2 separate regions of the Homo sapiens genome follow, and region 2 is linked to region 1. The links come from fine-mapping of genetic effects on gene expression. Tissue or cell type: whole blood. Region 1 holds a variant in brackets; the other region holds the start of a gene. All regions are shown on one strand. Distances are between the middles of the regions.

The links. PIP is the estimated chance that this variant, and not a neighbour inherited with it, causes the effect.
Region 2: MLX starts here. The variant in region 1 is fine-mapped to the expression of MLX in whole blood (INTERVAL, PIP above 0.99).

The regions. Positions count from the first base shown.
Region 1 is chr17:42,203,951-42,206,707 of GRCh38, forward strand. All of the region lies in intron 16 of STAT5B (signal transducer and activator of transcription 5B), which reads right to left. Among named protein-coding and RNA genes, the nearest start is that of GHDC, 11 kb to the left of the region's middle. The variant T/TA (reference allele first, on the strand shown) is at 1,401.
Region 2 is chr17:42,565,705-42,568,204 of GRCh38, forward strand. It overlaps MLX (MAX dimerization protein MLX), which reads left to right and starts at 1,396. Exons shown (of 8, transcript NM_198204.2): 1 at 1,396-1,462; 2 at 1,915-1,951. The coding sequence starts at 1,421. It overlaps COASY (Coenzyme A synthase), which reads left to right. Exons shown (of 9, transcript NM_025233.7): 8 at 1-101; 9 at 202-573. The coding sequence ends at 264. RefSeq lists enhancers at 1-154, 155-661, 868-917, 1,675-2,182, 2,058-2,147 and a silencer at 1,258-1,657.

The DNA.
Region 1 (2,757 bases):
GGTGCATACACGTCAGGGATCTAATGGAAAGGCCTAGGCACTGGAGAGCCGCTGATCTGATCTGATGATGTCTGAGGTTCCTCTAACTCTGAGTGTCTAGTCTTTCAGGAAAGGGAAGGCTACTTTTCCCAGCACCTGCACGCTCCTTCACGCCTGGTGTTTCTGCATTTGGGGTACTTTGATGTCACTAGTCCCAGTGAGTGCTGTTGGTGCCAAGAATGCGATGTGTCCTTTGCTTCCCACAGAATCCCCACTGGGATGTGGCAGATGAGCAGATAAACCTGCACGTGATCTGGTCAACCACAGTTACCTTTTCAGAAGGCTGACTATGGAAATCCAGGTAAGCAGGTGGTAAGAATGTGATTATCTGACATGGGAGAATGAAGTCTTGTTTCTGGGTACGTGAATATGGGAATCAGTACAAAGTTAATTATACTAGGCAAGGACGATCACACTATGATTATAGGACAAGGAGCTTGTCATTTAAGTAGCCCAAGAGGGTGAAACGCTGCAGGGTTCACCAATTGCTTATTACCCTAATCTTCTTCTAGGGCTTCAAGTGTCAGGAGCGACCTTTTCATAACATGTTTTTTGTGCTTTACAGTGTACAGAGTATTTTATAGATTGGCTAAGAAGTTAAAAACAAAGAAATGCTGCCAGAAATAGGATTTTATTTTTTTCTGAGACAGGGTCTTACTCTGTCACATAGGCTACAGTGCAATGGCACAATCATAGCTCATTGCAGCCTCAAATTCCTGGGCTCAACCAATCTTCCAGCCTCTGCCTTCTGAGTAGCTGGGACTACAGGCATGCGCCACCAAGCGCAGCTAACTTTTTCTTTTTTGTAGAGATGGAGTCTCACTATGTTGCCCAGGCTGGTCTCAAACTCCTAGGCTCAAGCAATCCTTCCTCCTCCGCCTTCTAATGTGCTGGAATTACAGGCATGAGCCACTGTGCCCAGGCCCAAATTATAAGTATCTTAAATAACCAACATGTAACTCACCATACAGTGGGATTGTATGCAGTCATCAAAATGAGGTTGGAAGATTACATTTACTGAGCTGTAACTCTGCATAGGATATATTTCTTTTTTTTGAGGCAGAGTCTCGCTCTGTTGCCCAGGCTGGAGTGCAGTGGTGTGATCTTGGCTCACTGCAACCTCCGCCTCCCGGGTTCAAGTGATTCTCTTGCCTCAGCCTCCTGAGTAGGTGGGATTACAGGTACCTGCCACCATGCCCGGCTAATTTTTGTATGTTTTTTAGTAGAGATGGGGTTTCACCATGTTGGCCAGGCTGGTCTCAAACTCCTGACCTCAAGTGATCCACCTGCCTTGGCCTCCCAAAGTGTTGGGATTACAGGCATGAGCCACCATGCCCAGCTACCTAGGATATATTTCCAAG[T/TA]AAAAAAAAAAAGTCACAAAAAATTACATATGATATGGTCTAGACTCCAACCTTTCACCCTGAACTCCAAGGCTGGAGTGTCCTGACCTCAGTTCCTACCACTTATCTTCCCTGCTCAAGAGGCTCCAGCCTCCCTGGCCCTCCTGAGGCTTTCCAGACATGGCCATTCTCAACCCAGGATTTTTGTACTTGTTCTCTTGGCATACAATGTTTTTCTCTAGATCTTTGTATGGCTAGCTTCCTCACTTCATTCAGGTCTTTTCAAACATCACATCCTGGCTAGGTAGAGTGGCTCATGCCTATAATCCCAGAACCTTGGGGGACTGAGGAAGGAACATTGCTTGAGCCCAGGAATTTGAGACCAGTCTGGGAAACACAGCAAGACCCCATATCTATAAAAATAAAATAATTAACCAGGATTGGTGGTGCATGCCTGTAGTCCCAACTATGTGGGAGGCTGAGGTGGGAGGATCCCTTGAGTCTAGCAGTTTGAGACTGCAGTGAGCAATGTACTCCAGCCTGGGCAACAAAGTGAGACCCCATCTCAAACAAACAAACAAACAAAACAACAACAAAAAAAACAAACATGTCCTCAGAGAAACCCTCCTTGACCACTCTAGTAAAATAACACCTCCACTCTCCTCCCTGCCACTTCTCTATCCCTCTACCTTGCTTTATTTGTCTTCAGGGCGCCCATCACTAAATTAATATATTTGTGTTTTGTTTGTTTTTGAGATGGAGTCTCGCTCTGTCACCAGACTGGAATGCAGTGGCATAGTCTCGGCTCACTGCAACTTCTGCCTCCCTGGTTCAAGCAATTCTCCTGCCTCCCTGGTTCAAGCGATTCTCCTGCCTCAGTCTCCCAAGTAGCTGGAATTACAGGCGCCCACCACCACACCTGACTACTTTTTGTATTTTTAGTAGAGATGGGGTTTCACCATGTTGGCCAGGCTGGTTTCAAACTCCTGACCTCAGGTGATATGCCTGCCTCGGCCTCCCAAAAGTCTGGGATTACAGGCATGAGCCACCGCGCCCGGCCTGAATATGTTTCCTTGTTTATGGTCTTCGTTCTGCTGCTAGATAACCTCCACACAGGAAGTTCAAGCAACGGGTGATGCAATGTATAATACATATCTATATATAGAGTGCAAGAATAGTCACTAAATCATCCATAGAGGTTAATCTCTAGATGAGAGATGTTGTGTGGTATCTGTTTTTTTGTTTTCTTTTCTTTTGTTTTTGAGACAGAGTTTCACTCTTGTTGCCCAGGCTGGAGTGCAATGGCACGATTTCAGCTCACCACAACTTCCACCTCTCGGGTTCAAGCAATTCTCCTGCCTCAGCCTTCCCGAGTAGC
Region 2 (2,500 bases), 360 kb after region 1:
CTCAAAGCCGGCTGCAGAGCCAGATGAGCGGGCAGCAGCTTGTGGAACAGAGCCACGTGGTGCTCAGCACCTTGTGGGAGCCGCATATCACCCAACGCCAGGTTGGTGCCCAGGGCAAGGCCGGGTTGTGGGGAAGGAGTCTCCAGTGGGTACTGCCTGACCCTGCCCTCTCTTCCTCCCAACATCCTGGCCTGTCTGAAGGTGGAGAAAGCCTGGGCCCTCTTGCAGAAGCGCATTCCCAAGACTCATCAGGCCCTCGACTGAAAAGTTCTCAGTGGGGCCAGACTGGCTCCTGGAGCTGACAAGCGACCCCGTGGTGAGGAGAAATGGGGGCCTTGATGCTCACCCTGGTTCAGGCCCAGAGGTCCAAGCTATACTGTGCAGGACATGGCCAGGCCTGGTGGACACAGGAAGCCTACCCAACACGCTGGTATTTGGCCAACACTGAGGATGTGGTTCATGGGGGAGCAGTCCCCTCCCCACTCTTGCCCATGGGTGACTCTTACCCACAGCTGACTAGGGCCAGCGCAAATACTGGAACCTGTAACAGAATTAAAGGTGAATGTTCTGAGATGTTGCTTGTATGGTGTCTGCTTCCTGTTCCAATGCCCCTAAGTATCTTTGGGATCCTTAAGCCACAAGTGCAGGGCCCAGGCCTGAGCTGGAAGCCTGGGCAATGCAGTGGTTAAGAGAATGGCCTTTGAGGCTAGCCAGAGGCGAGCTTTGGCCCTCCCACTGACCAGCTGTGTTCTTCTGAGTAAGGTGTAGACTTTCTAGGTACTGCCGTGTTTTATTGTTTTTGTTTTGTTTTTAATATGAGAGGCCGCATAACCTAGCTAGCAGGTTCTTTGCAAGGGTTCATTCCACATGCATCCTGCCAGACACTGGGCTGGGTGTTGGAAGATCAGCCTTCCGCGCGCCAGGCGGGGCCTCTGCCCTCACAGAGCTTGCAGCCTGGTGGGGTCGGACGATGTGGCTGGGGGCTTCTCTGCCCGGTTCCTGACACACCGGCCAGCAGTGCAGGTCCGGTGAGCGCGGGGAGGCCGCCCTCAGGGTAACGTGGGGAGCCGGCCGGCCGGACAGTGCGCGTGCACACACTATCTGCGGCGGTGTGCTGACAAGCCAATTGAGGGGACTCCATCTTACAAAACGCGCTTCATGTCGCCGCCATTCCACTGCCTAACCCGGGGAGGGCAGGCACGGCGGGGAGCAGTCTCGAAGGAGGCTGGCGCCAGGCCAAGCGCCGGGCCTTGACGGCTGGAACCGTGGAGTAAAGTCTTTGGGCTGCGCATGCGCGATGCTTCGCCCTGCCCCACCTCTCGGTCGCGGATTGGCGGGCGCGGGTCACGTGGGCACGCCACCCGCTTCCTCGCCGCAGGGGGCCCGCCCGCTGGCCCGTTTCCGGTCCGGTGGGTACAAGATGACGGAGCCGGGCGCCTCTCCCGAGGACCCTTGGGTCAAGGCAAGCCCCGTGGGCGCGCACGCCGGCGAGGGGAGGGCGGGTCGGGCTCGTGCACGTAGGGGGGCCGGAAGACGAGGGGCTTCCCTCCTGTCCCCAAAGTCCCCCACGCTCTCCGTGCCCCGGGGCTGCAGAGAAGACAGCTCTCACCCCGCGTGTGCCAAGGTGGGGAGACAAACGAGGCGTGTGCGCGCGAGTCGGGGGAACGGGGCACTGGGGTGGAGTAGGGGCGGAAGGGATCATACACAGGGGAGGCACTCGCACGCCCTAGCCTGTGCCAGTCTCGGGGGACTCATTAAGCTGCCCGCGCACCCCGGGCTGTGTGTGTGCAAGCGCGCAGGGTGACAGAGGCGCCTTCCCGGAATGGGGGGCGCGCTGTGCGTGCCTGCAGTGGAAGGGGCGCCTCCCCCTAGGGGCGGAGGTCTGACGGGCCCTTCCCGTGCTCTGTGCCGCAGGTGGAGTATGCCTACAGCGACAACAGCCTGGACCCCGGTGAGTAGCTGCCCCATCTTAAGCTCTAGAGGGACACTCCCGCCCAGGCTCTCTAGATTCTTGTGGCGTTGCCAACCACGCCTGAGCACAGTCCACTCTCCCTGAGCAGAGTTCCTGGCTTGAGACAGCAGGAGCTGAAGGACAAGGGCAGAAAACAACTGAGGGTGACACCTAGTTCCCTCTGCTCTGGAACAGGGAAGTGGTGGAACTGATCACTCACCACTCAGTGGAGCAGCTGATCACTCACACCCTCATCACGTCCACATGCCCGTTTGTGAGCCAGGGGGGTATCATGCAGGCCTATGGAGCAGTGTAGACACTAGGGAGCAGAGCACTGCAGCGTGGTCTGGCAGGAAGTGGGGGGCCCAGTATGGTTGGCTTTGGGTTGAAGGGAAGAGGTCAGCATTTAAGAAAGCCATTGTGTGGCCGGGCGCGGTGGCTCACCCCTGTAATCCCAGCACTTTGGGAGGCCGAGGCAGGCGGATCACGAGGTCAGGAGACCGAGACCATCCTGGCTAACACGGTGAAACCCCGTCTCCACTAAAAAAT